Regions from separate parts of the Homo sapiens genome. Here region 2 is linked to region 1. Evidence: fine-mapped expression QTL. Tissue or cell type: skeletal muscle. Region 1 holds a variant in brackets; the other region holds the start of a gene. All regions are shown on one strand. Distances are between the middles of the regions.

Region 1 (8,105 bases):
CAGTAATATTTTGAAAGAAATATTTTTTCTGAATAATATTTCTCAACACTGGGCTTAAAATATTCAGGAAACCATGCTGTAAATGATATGCTGTTATCCAGGCTTGTTGTTCCATTTATAAAGCACAGACAGAATAGATATGGCATAATTCTAGGGGCCCTAAAGTTTTTGGAATGGTAAATGAGTACTGGCTTCTATTTGAAGTCACCACCTACATTAGCCCCTCACAAGAGAGGCAGCCTGTCCTTTGAAGCTTTGAAGCCAGGCATTGACTTCTCTCTAGCTAAGAAAGTCCTAGATGGCTTTTTTTTTTTTAACCTTGAAAATCTGTTGTTTAGTGGAGCCACCTTCATCCGTGATTTTAGCTGGATCTTCTGGATAACTTCAGCTTCTCCATCAGCACTTGCTGCTTCACCTTGCACTTTTGGTGTTATGGAGACAACTTCTTTCTTTAATCCTCATGAACCAATCTCTGCTAGCTTCAAACTTCCTTCTGCAGCTTCCTCACCTCTCTCAGCCTTCACAGAATTGAAGAGAGTTAGGGTCTTGCCCTGGATTAGGCTTTGGTTTAAGGGAATGTTATACAGCTGGTTTGATCTTTATTCAGATCACTCAGACTTTCTCAATATCAGCAATAAGGCTGTTTGGCTTTCTTATCATGTGTGCATTCACTGGAGTCACAGCACTTTTTTTTCTTTGAGACAGAGTCTCACTCTGTTGCCCAGGCTGGAGTGTAGTGGCGCGATCTCGGCTCACTGCAGCCGCCGTCTCTGGGGTTCAAGCAATTCTCGTGCCTCAGCCTCCCGAGTAGCTGGGACTACAGGTGTGTGCCACCACGCCCGGCTAATCTTTTGTATTTTTAGTAGAGACGGGATTTCAGCATGTTAGCCAGGCTGGTCTCGGACTCCTGACCTCAGGTGATCCATCGCCTCGGCCTCCCAAAGTGCTGGGATTACAGGTTTGAGCCACCACGCCCAGCCTCACAGCACTTTTAATTCCCTTGAAGAACCTTTCCTTTGTGTTCACAGCTAGGCTGTTTGGGACAAGAGGCCTAGCTTTTGGCCTATCTCCACTTTCAACATGTCTTCCTCACTAAGTGTAATCATTTCTAGCTTTTGATTTAAAGTGAGAGGTGTGTGTCTTCCTTTCACTGGAACACTTAGAGCCTTTTAAGTGTAACACTTGTAGCATTATGAATTGTCCTTATTTCAATACTATTGTGTCTCAGGAGGCCCGATGAGGAGGAGAGAGATGAGGGAATGACCAGTCAGAACATTTATAGATTAAGTTCTCTGTCTTACATGGTTCATGGAGCCCCGAAACAATTACAAATCACAAATCGCAGATCACTGTAACAGATATAATAATAATGAAAAAGTTTGAAATACTTGAGAATTACCAAAATGTGACACAGAGACACAAAGTGAGCACGTGCTGTTGGAAAAATAGCACCGATAGACTTGCTCAATGCAGGGTTGCCACAAACCTTCGATTTATAAATAACACAACTATCTTCAAAGTTCAATAAAGCAAAGTGCGGGAAAACGAGGTCTGCCTGTACCTTGTTACGGCAGCCAGAGCCAATGAATGCAAGGCCCCGGGGCAATGACTCACCCACATTTTGGGGGAGCCGCAGAGGCATCCGTGGTGTGAGGCCCAGAGCATAGGGGCAGCCTGGGAACAGGGGAGAGCCAGAGAGGGAAGAGAGGTCCACCATTCACCTGCAGCCCAAGGAACCAGGCCAGGTGAGCCCGTGTGCGTGTGAGCGCCCAGTGCTTCTCTATGGCAACAGGGGTGGAAGCTTGCATGGCATGGTGGGTCAGGCTTGAGGCTAGGTGCCATCAGGCCACGTCTGCCGGTGACTTAAGGGCAGGGAACAGCCACCATAGCAGCGGGCCTGGTGGCGGGGTAGGCAAAACAGCATGAAGGCTAAGACTGAGTTCAAGGAGGACCTCCCTCTGAGGCCTCCAAGAATGAGGTTCAGCCCTGTAGGGCTCCTAGAGCATCGTCAGTTGCAGAGGACAGGAGACCATGGCTGAGCCAATCCCAGGCGGCACACAGACCAGGTTCCGCCGGTGTCGTTCTCTTGCCATTTTTCAGAGAATGGGACCATTAAGACGCTAACTTCATTTTTTAAACCACTAGATGTCACCCTTGTGCCACCCCCGTCTATCTGCCAGACCATGCTCTGTGGAGGGCAAAGAGGACAAGGATACACGCCCCAAAGGCCTGTGGAGGCCGGGAGGGCGGCTGGTAGGGACCCCTGGGTCAAGGACCAAGGTTGAGAAGGAGCTAATGGAAAGCGACAGCCTCCTGGATCTGGAGAACACGGCTCTGGATGACTTTCCAATAGTGTTTCTCAACTTTGGCTGCATACCAGGAAAGCTTTAAAAAAACTGATGCCTGGGTCCCACCCTCAAGAACTTCTGTGTGAATTAGTAGAGGATTGGGGTGGGTACTGAGAGTTTTGAAAAATCCCCCAGTAGTTTTAATGTAGAGCCAAGATTAAGATTAAGAACCACAGCCGGGCGTGGTGGCTCATGCCTGTAATACCATTGCTTTGGGAAGCTGAAGTGGGAGGATCCCTTGAGGCCAGGAGTTCGAGACCAGCCCGGAAAAAATAGCCAGACCCCATCTCTACAGAAAAATAAAAATACAATTAGCTGGCCTGGTGGTGCACGCCTGTAGTCCCAGCTCCTCAGGAAGCTGAGGTGGGAGGATCACTTGAGCCCAGGAGGTCGAGGCTGCAGTGAGCTGTGATTACACCATGGCACTCCAGCCTGAGAGACAGAGTGAGACCCTGTCTCTATTATTTAAAAGAAACGATTGAGAACTGCTACTGTAGGCTGTGATTATGAATCCAGATATTGTACATAGAGCAAATATTTATCAATTGAATTGCAGTTGAAATGTACTCTAGAAGTTTGTTTTTATGAGCAAAACTGAATAAAGGAAAGTCAATGGATTTTTTGGAGCAGGGGTCAGAGTGTGGAAATTGAACCCACCACATCATATTTTCCTGTGACTGAATTTAATTTGAAAGGTATCTAACAAACATACATTTTATGTGGCACCCTGTGTGAGTCTCATAATATACTATCACTGTGAAGAGCTCTAATGTTGGAGGAAAATTACCATAGATCGCATCTGCTACCTCCTACCTTTGCATTTGTTAGTTCTGGAGGGTGAAGGTGGTGGAAAAGAGCTATAGAAAGAAAGTTAAGCAATGAAAGCTGTAAAGGGCTTAATACATAGTTGTTAAAATGTGACTTGTTTCGTTCACAGCACTTTTGTGATGTTTTGTCAACCACTGTGGAAGACAGTGTGGTGATTCCTCAAGGATTTAGAACCAGAAATGCCATTTGACCCAGCAATCCCATTACTGGGTATACACCCAAGTGATTATAAATCATTCTATTATAAAAACACATGCACCTGTATATTTATTGCAGCACTATTCACAATAGCAAAGACTTTGAACCAACCCAAATGCCCATCAATGATAGACTGGATAAAGAAAGTGTGGCACATATACACCATGGAACACTATGCAGCCATAAAAAAGAATCAGTTCATGTCTTTTGCAGGGACATGGATGAAGCTAGAAGCTATCATTCTCAGCGAACTATCACAAGAACAGAAAACCAAACACCACATTTTCTCACTCATAAGTGGGAGTTTAACAAGGAGAACACATGGACACAGGGAGGAGAACATCACATACCATGGCCTGTCTGGTGGTGGGGGTTAGGGCAGGGATAGCGTTAGGAGAAATACCTAATGTAGATGACAGGTTGATGGGTGCAGCAAACCACCATGGCACGTGTATACCTATGTAACAAACCTGCACATTCTGCACATGTACCCCAGAACTTAAAGTATAATAAAAAAAAAAAGTGACTTGTTTTTAAAGGTTAGTAAAGAGTCCATTTGAGACTCTTCTTTCTTCTAGAAGGATGCTCATAGACCTCCAATGGCTACTACACTGGGAAAGTTTGGAATGCAGTGACTACAATGAGTAACAACGTTTGATCTTTGTGACATAGTTACCTTGTACTTATCTTGTTGATTGCTAAGAAACCCAAGCAGCTTTGAAGACGACTTGGATTGCTTGAAACCTAAAACATCCATGCAAGGTGAAGGGGACTGACATATTCTTAGTTTCTTGGAAGAGAAAACACAGAGAGATCTTCCAGCCTGTTCTATGTGGCCTATACGATTTTCATAGATCTCATTTCCTTGGCCTTCCAATTCTAAAATCCTCACCCTAATTCCTCTCTTTTCTAGAACACCTGCATCTAAACAGGTATAATAAGATGGTAAATAGACGTGTTGGTGATACTGGAAGCTAGTGCCCTGAAACGGAGAACATTGAGC[C/T]TTAAGCATCCCACTTTGTAAAATGAAAGCATGGCTTTCCTCTTCAGGCTTATTACAATGAGGTAAAGCTAGTCCTATGGCCAACACTCATCCATACCCTCTCCAGTCTAAAGAAAAGACTAGAAATTTGAAAAGATTGCCTAAACTCAATGGAATTTGTGAAAATATGGAGTAATTGTGCCTTTAGGGGAGAAAAACTTTATTTTTTCCTCTCCCCTCCCTTCTTAATGGGGCCCGCTCCCCACCCAAGTCAAACTAGGGAGTATTCTGCAAGGACCACTTGCAGAGACCACACATGCCTAAAAGACGGTAGCCTGGCATCCCCTTTGCCCTGTTGGATATCTGTTGGAGCAGTGGATTTGCCAATCTTCAATCTGTGTGAGCAAAGGAAAAAGAAAGAAATAGAGCAATGGCTGGGTGGAAAAAGAAGCTTATAATGGGGTCGCCGACGCTCTCACTCTGTGGTGGGTGAGGATCATGAGTTTTCAATGGGCCATGTGGAAACTGAGAGTCAGCCAGTATCGAGCTTGTCTTGCCAGTGCTCCTCCCTCCTACCTGCAAGTAATCTGGCCAGCAGGGGAGGAGTACCATAGCAATAAGGTATTTTGGAAAGTATTACCTGGGGGCAGAAGGGGAATAGATATTTGGAGGAAGTCAAGTCAAAAAGGTTCTCCCACATAAGAGAATCATGCAGTGAGAAGCCTCAGGGACCTCTGGAAGCACTGAAATAGCTAGGGAAGAAGCGTCAACTGTAGCTGCGAAGTAAAAGTGCTTTTGCCACTTACCCATAATCCTTGCTTTCAGATCCTGATCTTGGAGAACTCCAAAGCATTAGGAGGAAAAGGGAATGGTAATTTAGTTTAGGCAATCTTTTCAAATTTCTAGTCTTTTCTTTGGACTGAAGAGGGTATGGATGAGTGTTGGCCATAGTACTAGCTTTACCTCATTGTAATAAGCCTGAAGAGGAAAACCATGCTTTCATTTTACAAAGTGGGATGCTTAAGGCTCACTGTGCTCCGTTTTGGGGCACTAGCTTCCAGTATCACCAACAAGTCTATTTCCCATAATGAAGGAGAATCAAAAGGGCCTGCTTCCTAGTATGCAAGGCAGTTCTGCACCGGAGAGGGGAAATGCTTTGAATTGAATATAAAAATAAAATTTTAAACTGGACTAACTGGGCTGGACATTTTAACACCACCTGTGGGATCTGCCCAATATGCCATGAAGCAGCAGGAAAGGAGGAGCCAACAGCATTTGTTTGAAGACTGATAGAAGAAAAACAAAATCATTTTGTCTTGTAGTCCACCAAGTACATGATTGTTCAAAAAACTATTTATGAGAGTTTCACACTAGACACAGAACCCAACTTTTCTCCAAGAGAGTTATTATGGAGGAGCAGAGACCTATTGGACTGTCCTATGGAGGAGCAGAGACCTATTGGACTGTGCTATGCTTTCCATATGGTTTCTTTCTGGCTGCAGGCATGCCAGCCTGCATATGTGTCCTTGGGTGGCTGGTCATTTGTTCTAGACCTTTAGTAAGTTATCTGTCCCAAACGACTTGTGACTGAAAGTTTCAACCCTAATGCAAAAAGTCATAGAAAGCATAAACTCCTTTTAAAAAATCTGAATCTGTAGGTAAGTAAGGCAGGAGGGAAGGGAAAACTTGCATGGCAAAATGGAAAAAAAAAGTCATGCAATTTGGTCAGTCACGGTGGCTCACGCCTGTAATCCCAACACTTTGGGAGGCTGAGGCAGGTGGACCACTTGAGGTCAGGGGTTCGAGACCAGCCTGGCCAACATGGTGAAACCCCGTCTCTATTAAAAATACAAAAGTTAGGCCGGGCGCAGTGGCTCACGCCTGTAATCCCAGCACTTTGGGAGGCCAAGGCAGGTGGATCACGAGGTCAGGAGATCAAGACTGTCTTGGTTAACGCAGTGAAACCCCGTCTCTACTAAAAATACACAAAAAATTAGCCGGGTGTGGTGGCGGGCGCCTGTAGTCCCAGCTACTCTGGAGGCTGAGGGAGGAGAATGGCGTGAACCGGGGAGGCGGAGCTTGCAGTGAGCAGAGATCGCGCCACTGCACTCCAGCCTGGACAACAGAGCGAGATTCCCTCTCACAAAAAAAAAAAAAAAAAAAAAAGAATTAGCATGGCATGGTAGTGGGCACCCGTAATCCCAGCTGCTCAGGAGGCTGAGGCAGGAGAATTGCTTGACTTGGGAGGTGGAGGCTGCAGTGAGCAGAGATCGGGCCATTGCACTCCAGCCTGGGCATCACAGCGAGACTCTGTCTCGGAAAAAAACAACAAAGTCACACAATATGATCAGATTTCAATGAATGTTTTCTCCCCTCTTGAGTAGTACTAAATCAATGACTCTCCACATGTGTCATATGCTAGAGATGAAATGTCCAATTTTTTTGCTGGAAACTTGACAAGAGCCTGTTTCTTTGGTCTTTCTGTTGAGTTTTTGAAGGAATCCTGCTTAATAAATTCTCCTTTAGTGAAACTGAATTCTGCTGGCTACAAATGAGAATGCTGAGGGAAACACTATTACATTACCCAGTTTTATTGTCCTTAAAACACTGAAACTCTCTTTTTATTTATTTGTTTATGTGCTATTTATTATCTGTCTCCATCCACTGAAATATAAGCTTCAAAAGAACAGAGACCTTTTTCATTTTGTTCAACTCTTTGTGCTCAGCATCTGGAACTTTTTAAAAGCTGAATTAGGGGTCTACCTTAGAGACTCAGCTTTGGAAAGAGACTTTCCCTGTGGCTGGCACATAGCAGTCTCTCAGTTTATTTTAGGTATTTTTTATTTTTTTAGTGCATGATCTCTCATAAAATGTAGCAAATGATGAGTGTCATGTGAGCATTGCCCAGAAGCAAAGGGCTGCATGTTGATTAATTACAGACAGAAGCTTGAAGGGGGTAGCATCTGAGACAGGTCTTAAAGAAAGAGTATGATTTTGGGTGGAAATAATGGGACAAGGTGTGACCAGTATATACTGTTGTGATCAGGAGCTACACAGACTGGTAAAGCTATTTTTTTTCAACCTAATATGTCCTCCATGCTTGTCCATTCGTTTTCATTTCTTTATTCATTTATTTCATAAATGTGTTCTGAGCACTCTTTTGCTATATTTCATCCATGTGCTAGAACGGAAGACTACAAAGATACTGAAGCTGTATACCTCCTTGGTGTTGCTTTCAGACAGTGGGGAGCAGGTTAAGATACTTTCAACAGAACCCTTCTATAGTAATTCCTACAATAGAGGCTTGAAAAAAAATGCTGGAATTAAGGCATGAACACAGCACAAGGGGAACACAGTTGAGGAATGGCCACCTTTGCTGTGTGAAAATGGGAAAGGCTCTTCCCAAAGCTAAGTCTATAAGGGAGACCTCTAATTTAGCCTTTTTTAAAAAAGGGATTCAAACATACTCCCAGCAGAGGAAATAGCACATTTCTGCTCAAAGGTTTGGAGAAGTGAAAGTGTTTGGAGGTGGCTTAAGGTGTTTAAGAGACATTTCTGGGATAACAGTGCTTGACTTTGATTAATTAGGTGCTAGAATCAGGGAGAGTGGAGGTTTATAGGAGTCTTGAAGATATTGAGATTGGGAAGCTGATAAGTCCATTAAATGAGACGTTTTCAAGCAAAAAGTCTTACATTTTAGTGAAATGCAAAGTTGGAATCCTCTCTGATGGTTTTAGTGATCTGAGTTG
Region 2 (8,105 bases), 710 kb before region 1:
AATTTTAGGCAGCTTTCTGTAGGATCAGACCCGACATTTAGATGTTTTGATAAATATAACATTAATTAAGATACTGCAATCCTTCCATACTGGCTAAGTAGCCCTTGGAGTAATCACCCCTCCACTACCACTGGCTGCCATTCCCACTATACCCTGTCTCCTCACCCCTGCTGCAGGAACCACTCCTTCCTCCCAACATCAACACCACCATTTCACCAGAACCCAGCACTAAAGAATAAATGTCTGGCCTAGCAGAAGCCTTCAGGACTCAGCTCTAATGCTAGTGCCCCTGTGGCTGGCTTGACTTCAATTAAGTTGGCAGGTGGGTGCCCTGCTGTACAGGTTGCTTAATCTTTTAAATATCCTCTTTGTGAGAATTCAATCGTCTTGTTATGTAGCTCTTGAAGAATGTGCAAAACATTCAGAAAACAGTCCTCAAATCTTTGAAAGAACGTCCTGTTTGGAATGGCAAACATAATTGTGCCGACTTTGAGACAGTTAAGAGTATTTGGTAACCCTCCTCTCAAGGATACAATATTTCCTTTCTTGGAGGTGAGAAAAGAGTTGAGAAACTAAATTGACTTAGGAGTCAAAATTGGACTCAGGTCATTTATTACATAAAACTAGATTTGCCTCCAAACTTTGCACTATGTTTTTGTTTGTTTGTTTTGAGATGGAGTTTTGCTTTTGTCGCCCAGGCTGGAGTGCGATCTCGGCTCACTGCAACCTCCGCCTCCCCGGTTGAAGCAATTCTCCTGCCTCAGCCTCCTGAGTAGCTGGGATTACAGGCGCCCACCAACACGCCCGGAACATTTTACCATTTTTAGTAGAGTCGGGGTTTCGCCATGTTGGCCAGGCTGGTCTCTAACTTCTGACTTCATGTGATCCGCCCGCCTCAGCCTCCCAAAGTGCTGGGACTACAGTGCACTGTGTTCTTAACGTGCCTTTAGATTCCCCAGTTCCTAATATCAGGCACACAGAAAAACGGAGGTGAGAGTGTTTCCTGGCTTCCTCTTTGAGATGCCTTTAGGGCCCCCTAGTGGCTGCTTTAAGACCTCAGGTTTCTTAGGATTCGGTCTCCTTGACCCTAATAAAAAATAAGAGACCTTTCCGAATCTCTTCAGTGACAGGTACAATAACTGTGTGGAGATAAACAGATAACAGTTGGTTTAGATAGCTCATTTTTTTTTTTCATTTTTCAGTTCTCAGCAAAAGCTGCGCTCATTCTTTACAAATAACAGATATATCACTTTACATATTTTATTCTGCATTCTCATACTATATCGTAGCGGAAATCCTTTTAAGACATTTGTATCTTGGTTGTGTCAAAAGGCTATAATTCCTGGTAACTACATCCTACTTCAGGGTTTCCATGTATATGTATATACATATTTAGTTGCTTGGACTGGGGAGTTGAGGAGCTTTACAATTTTCCAACGTAATACTTTAAACCTGGGGCTTGATGTACTAACCAGAGGACTCAGTATGTGGCACATTTCAGTCTGACAACATTAATATCATTTAGAGCATTAGCTATGCCACTGACTGCAGGCACTTGCAACCTTGATTTGATAAAACAAAGCTTTTCCACATTTAAGGTGCTTATTGACCAATGCAAGTACACTTTGTGAAATCCACTAATAAGGCATTATGTCTTCAACGTGCCTTACTGACCAGCGTGAACATTGCTAGCTCCCACACCATGGTCACATTTTTCTTTCTTAGATTCCATCTAGAGAATGTACTACACTTGAGTCATTATAATGGAGATGTTTCTTTCCCGGAAGCTTATCTTTTAGTTTCTGATGTTATTCAACTATTTCTCCTTCGCTTGTAAATTTCAGGTCTTTTCCTTTCCTCAGTCACGTTACCTTTATTAATATGCTAATGTGCTGTAATAATGCATTTTACACCACTAATGAAGTGAAGCAAAGCAAAACGTAAAAAGAAAGTACAAATTCTCCCTTTAACTTTACCCGGTTCCGGGGAGGGGGTAGGGGTGAGAGAGGAGGAAGAGAGTAGGAAGGAAGGACATTCGGGCGGCAAAAAAATAAAAATGATCCCCTTGTTTTCAGCGCGTTCTGGAACAGAGCTGCACGTCAGAGGAAGAACTGAGCAGCCTTCGAGCTAAAAGACTTGGCATTAAACTTTGACACTTTAATGGTCTCTAGGATATTAGATAGTATTTTTTCATATAATGTTCTTCTCCGACACGGTAATGGCATCAGAAACAGAATCTGCTATGCCTGCCAACGTGCACGGTGAGGCTCATCGCCGCAGAGGTAAGACAGCAGGACCCCAGCTTCGCAGTTAACTTATCCCGAAGCTCCAAAGCAAACGTCTTTTACTTCTTCGCCGGGGACGCTGCTGTACCACCGCTGCCTCCCTTTCGCATTCTGCTGGGCTCGGTCAGCCGCTGAGATTAGGTAAACAGCGCTCCGGAGCCGGGGCAAAGCGGGCGCTGCTGCTGCTGGTGGGGGTCGTTGTTTCACGAGGCTGGAGGGAAGGGGGATGGGAGAAGGGTCCCAGCTCGGTAAAGCCAAAGGCCGAGAGTGTGGTTACCGAGGCGGGAGCCAGGTCCGGAGCCAAGCAGGGGCCAAGCCTCCGAAGCCCTTGCCGCCCCACCCCCCCAGCCCGACCTCGAGGAGTGGGGTCAGCTGGGCAACCCAAGCTCGGCGGCCCTTTCCCGCGCGCCCCCTCCCCAGCCCATCCTTCCCCTGCCCCTTCCAAGAACTAGGGTGGGCTTCCCGCTGCCTCGCTCGAGTCCTGGAGAGCGGAGAGGCGCGCAGAGGGAAGGCAAAGACCCGGCGGCCCGCCCGGCTGGGGAGAGGTGGAGACCCGGGGGGAAGGGGACCCCAGAAGCCCTGGGACCGAGCTGCGGAAAAACCCGGGAGCTGGATCGCGCGCCCGGAGCTCCGGTCTCCGAGTCCGAGTTGTGCAGCTCTCGGCGTCCTCTTTCTCTCCCTGCCTCTCTGCTTTCGCCTCCTCTGGGTCTTCTCTCGAGGGCATCCTCCTTCCATCCATTCTCACACCCCCGCTCCTGTGCCCCGACCCATTTCACCCACTTCTCCTGTGGCTCGGGAGGACTCTCCGTACCCCCACCCTGGTCCCTAGAACTGGGAGGCTGGAAGTCCATTCAAGGGATGTTGCGCGCCGGGTTCTTATGCCAAGAGGGAAAGAGCGAGAATAAAATCAGCAGGGGAGGGGCGTGTTGTGCGTGCATGGGGTGTGTGTTTGGGGTGGAGGAAAAAGAAATGTAGTTTCCTCAGAGGAAGAGGAAGCCTTGGACAGGATTCTTGGATACCGATCCCAGAAAGATGCCGTCAGAGCCCTTCGGCGGGGCTCCTCACAGACTCCGGCTGCCCCACAGCATGCCCACCTCCGAGAGAAGCTGCGACCCGAGGCGGGGAAACTTCCTACTTCTCACGACGGCTGTTTTGTGCAATTTGGGGAGCAGGCTGCATGGTCCTGCAAGCCTGCGAGCCTCTCTACCACGGCAGCTGCGGGCCCGTCCCGCTTCCCTTCCCCCTTTTTCCGCGAGGCACGCCAAGCCCGAGGCGGCCGGGAGCCGCCGGGGTTGGGGGAAGAAGGGCGGGGAGCTCCCAGCTTGCACCCTTTCATCCCGACCCGGCCCGGGATCCCGGCTCCGGGTGTTGCTTCCGCCTGCCTGCCAGCCAGCGAGCTGAAGAAGCACCGGGGCGGAGTCTCGCCGGGGGGCGGAGCCTGTGCGGGGGCGAACTCTCGGTCCGCGCGGCTGCGGCGCTTGCCATTGGCCGGCCGCTCGGTCACGGGGTCGGGGGCGGGCGCCGACGCGGGCGCCGGCCCCGCCCCCGCTCGGAACCCAGCCCCGGCTCGCGGTCCCCCCCGGCTGCACAGACATGACACAGACACACAGTCACTGCAGCTGCTGAGCGAGTCCGGCGCTCTGGGCACGCGGAGGCGGCGGGGCCAGCCCGGAGCCCGGACCCCAGCGCCCGCCCCTGCCGGTTCCCGCGCGGCGGCCCACTCCTGGCCGGGCGCGGGAGGCGGGGATCGCGCGCCGGCTCCGGCCAGCGGCGCCCGGCTGCCCGCGGCGGCTGCAGCGGCCGCCCAGCTCCGAGCGCCGGGCGCTCCGGGAAGCCGGCGCATCTCGGAGGCGGCGGCGGCGGCCAAGGCCGGCGAGCGCTCCCGGCGGCGGGGGCCGCCCGCCTCGGCTCCCCGCACCCACCGCGCCGCGATCCACTCGCCGCGCCTCCGCTCCCGTGACCTTCCCGGGGCGCCTCCCCTAGCCCCGCGCCCCCGGCCCCGCGCCCCAGGCCGGGGCGAGGCCTTTTCCGGCGCTTCTTTCCCGCGGAGCCGCGGGCGGGCGGCGCAGGCCCTGGGGGAGAGCGCGCCGCGGCCGGTTGCAGCCCCCCCCGCGCCGCCGCGTTCGGCGCCCGGCCCGGCCAGTCTGCTCCTGCCCCGCCGCCGCGCCGGAGCCCGGGCGCCCGAAGCTGGGGGCGCGGCCGCGCTCGTCTCGCCGGGCTGTTCGCGGGCAGGCCCTGCCCTGAAGGGACGAATCGGCTTGGAGCGCGGGAGGTGGAGTCGGCCCCGGCGGTCGCTCCCTGGACCCAACCCGAGGCTGACCCAGGCCCCTGCCCATGCGGGGCGCCCCTGGCTCGGAAGAGTCCCCCGGGCCGGGAGCAGCTCCAGGCAGCGGCCCCGGAGGAAGAGGAAGAAGGGACAGTGCTCAGCTTGGGGGACCCGGACCCTCGCCGCGGCATTTGGAGCCGGGGGCAGTCCCGAACTCTGTGCTTGGCACCGCCGCTCCGAGTAGGGCAGCGCCTGCCGGGACCCTGACCCGGACCCCCTGCGCCTCGTAGGCGGCGGCGCCGCCGCGCCACCCTGTTCTTCCGTGTCTCCCTCTGCCTGGCGGCAGTCACGGCCAAGGTAAGAGCCCCGGAGCGCGAGAGTCGCCGCGGGGGCGCCGTGGTGTGTAGCGCCGGACAAGTTCTCCGAACCTGTGGCTGGTACCCCCTGTACTCGGGATGCCGGCGGGGAGGCCGGGCACACCCTCTGCTGCCCCGGCCGGGAGCCCTGGAGAGGCTGGAGGTGGAAGCCCCCAGTCTCCGAAGTCCCCAGGACCCCCTCAGGGCCTGCTCGGCTTCTGGGCACACAGGCTGCTGGCAGGGAGCGAGCCAGGAGGAGTTTCTGGTTAACACCACGAGGGCATGTGACCGATACCCGCACCCCCGGCCCTCTTGTTAGCGGTGAGCACCTGTGGTTCGCGGAGCCTGCCGTGTTTGGAGAGGGCCCTGTTGGGCGGTACGCAACTACCTTTCGTGGTGTGATGCTGTGAATAACTTTTCTTGTTCCTTCTTGCAGACAGTCCTGCGCAATTTGGGGGCGAGCAGCCACAGCTTGCGAGTCCCTCTTTAGGACAGAGTGGTTGGTTGGCATTGCTATCTGTAGGGGGGAAGCCCAGCCAGCATGTCCTTCCTGTTAGTCAAAGCTGCTTGTGAGGAGTGATCAGTGTATAGCTATCCAGACATTCTTGTAAATGTCACTGCTTTTGAAGTTTTGGAGTGAGGACTCCAAAGTTTGTGTATCCTCAAGTTATTTTGTTCATTGCCTTATCCTCTTTTAAATGTTCCTCTTAAGGAACCTCAGTTGTACAAGCCTGTCCTTGCCTGTTTGAAATTTATTAAACCTGTGAGCTTCCCCCAGAACAATCTGATTTTAAATGGGTCACTTCGGAGGGAACAGATTGTCTCTTGCACACTGAATCCATCCCTTGGGTGACCCTGTTTAATGGGGTTGGACTCTTTTTTTTTTTTTTTTTCGTCTCTGTGCTGATGTGCCTCGGTTGAGCAGGTTTCTGCTGAATTCAGAATCCGTGAATTTTGTCACTCAGTCCATTAAAATGATCTCCTGAGGGAGCAAAATAGCAGCTTACATTTTTCGTGAATGTCACTGGAAGTTTTACAGGGTCTTATGTAAGTGCCCAGAGAGAGAGAGAGAGGAGGGAGTGGGGGGAGATCAGGCTCCTGCTTCCTTCAAGGGGAGAAACGGAGGGGGTGGCAGGTGGGGGCGTCCGCCTCCCTGACATGCAGATGCCTTTCTTCTCTGACACAGGTGTGGAGACCTGAAGTGCTTATCATTCCGTGGAGGCAGTCACCTCGGGTTAATTTTTCTTCTCACTTCTCCTGTCTTCCCACCTCAGGAGTCAGCTTTGATAGACTTAAGATAAGGAAAGCTTCTAAATTAAGAAGGGAACAAGTGGTGGTTGTTTCTTCTCCCATCCCTCACAAATGGGTGACATGAATGAATTACTCACTGGCACGCTTGGTCCTCCCTAGGGGTAAAAATAAAAGAAATAAAAACGCCAGCTTTAAGATTTCACACATCTCTTAGTGTACCTTTATTGTTCAAGAGTACTTTAGTGAAAATTGCTTGTGGAGAACACATTTATCGAGCCTGTCCCTGTTAATTCCATACCAGGAAGAAAACTCACTCGAACAGAGAGGCAAAAATCACCAAGATTTAGAGGTTAGTGGGTTTTCAAGAGTGGCGAGGAAAGGAATCAAATCCCCCTGGCAGGAGAGAGAGGTTTTTAACGGGAAGATCGGATTGCTCTGGAGTGAGCAGTAGCTGCTGACAAGTGTGGGCCCTCCTGCTTCACTTAATGAAGTGTGCTGGGGTGTGGATTAACTTTTTGATGTGAGCCAATGCAGATTCCTTTGGCTTTTAAACCATACCTGGAAGGGCCTTAGAAATGAAATGAAAGGTTTTTTTCATCTCATCATAGGTCTCGGAAGTGCTTCCATCTCTTGGGAAGGTTGTGACGAAGGTTTCCTTTGTTTCTGGGTTCCTGAGCTGCGCTTTAAAGTTGATGCACAGTGCAGGGAGGGTGCGTCCTGTAGTGTCGCCATCCTTCAGCCACCTACAGTAGCAGGACACTAGGGGGGACTAGTTATCTTTTCCACCATCGAAGAAGAAAACACCAGGGCCCATGTTACTGTGGTTTATCTTGAGGGTTCATGAGCCTGTGGTTTATGTTGAGGGTTCGTGAGACTGTGGTTTATCTTGAGGGTTCCTGAGATGAACTTTTTGGGATCTAGTACATGCTTGCACTAGTGAGTGGATTCTGAGTGCCTAAGGGATGGGCCTGCTCACATCTAAATTGTCATTTGGACAACTCAGAACCAGTTAACTGCAAAATGTTATGTGACATTCTGAAAAGACTCAGTTATAATCTCTAAGTATTTAAGGACTACAAAAAGGCTCTATCCTTTGAATATTAGACCATCCTAACTTTAAGTTCCCTAACAGTTTGTAATCAACACTTTTGGTGTTTGGTTTTTGACTGCATATTCCCTGCAGTCATCATAAAATCACATGGCTTCAAAATGTCTCTGCAGTGGACTCCATCAAACTTAAAATTCCCCTTAAAAATACATTCCGTATACTTAGAGATGTTAACATAACATTTGACGGTGTAGTTGCACTTCCACCTCAGACGCTGTCTGCACTTTTAATAGTATGAAATCATTAATGTCCACAGCCCTTCCAGCAGAATTGGAAGATAATTCTACTTCCCTGAAGAACACTGACTGCCCCATTGCCTAGGTTTACCCAAGTAGCTAAGTCTTATCAAAGCTGATCCCAGAGGTGGGAGTAGCGGGGAGACAGGAAAGATGCAAGGTAGAGGCCAAGAAGAGCCTGCTTAGTTTAGAATACTGTCACAAAAACAGGCAGATATCACCAAGATGTTGGTCACACTGGATTCTAAAAGGCCCAGTTCAGCATGTAGAGTTAGACTCTGTTTGAAACCTGTGAACCCACCTGAGTTATTACTTTTCCCTTGAACTCTGGGGTCTGGTAGACGGCATTTGTGACCCTTTACCCATACGTGTAGTGCACATTTAGGTAGTTGAAGGGGAGCTATTGTTGTGGTCTAGGAAAAATGGTCAGCAGACAGCTTTATTTCTAACATTAAGACTTTATAGATTGATTCTCTTGGGCACAGTACAGCCAAGGGGTAAGAGATTGGAACAGGAAAATACCATCGCATTTGCCATTGAGCACCAACGATTGAAGACCGATCCTGTGGAGAATATATGCTGTCATCCTGAGACATGAATGAA

The links. PIP is the estimated chance that this variant, and not a neighbour inherited with it, causes the effect.
Region 2: LARGE1 starts here. The variant in region 1 is fine-mapped to the expression of LARGE1 in skeletal muscle (GTEx, PIP 0.98).

What each region holds. Positions count from the first base shown.
Region 1 is chr22:33,204,366-33,212,470 of GRCh38, reverse strand. It overlaps a transcript of LARGE1 not described here. Among named protein-coding and RNA genes, the nearest start is that of LARGE1-AS2, 44 kb to the right of the region's middle. The variant C/T (reference allele first, on the strand shown) is at 4,378.
Region 2 is chr22:33,916,798-33,924,902 of GRCh38, reverse strand. It overlaps LARGE1 (LARGE xylosyl- and glucuronyltransferase 1), which reads left to right and starts at 4,427. Exons shown (of 15, transcript NM_133642.5): 1 at 4,427-4,908. LARGE1-AS1 (LARGE1 antisense RNA 1) reads right to left here and starts at 3,678. Exons shown (of 2, transcript XR_001755630.2): 1 at 3,380-3,678; 2 at 1,848-2,496. RefSeq lists silencers at 3,560-4,059, 4,380-4,529, 4,800-4,899.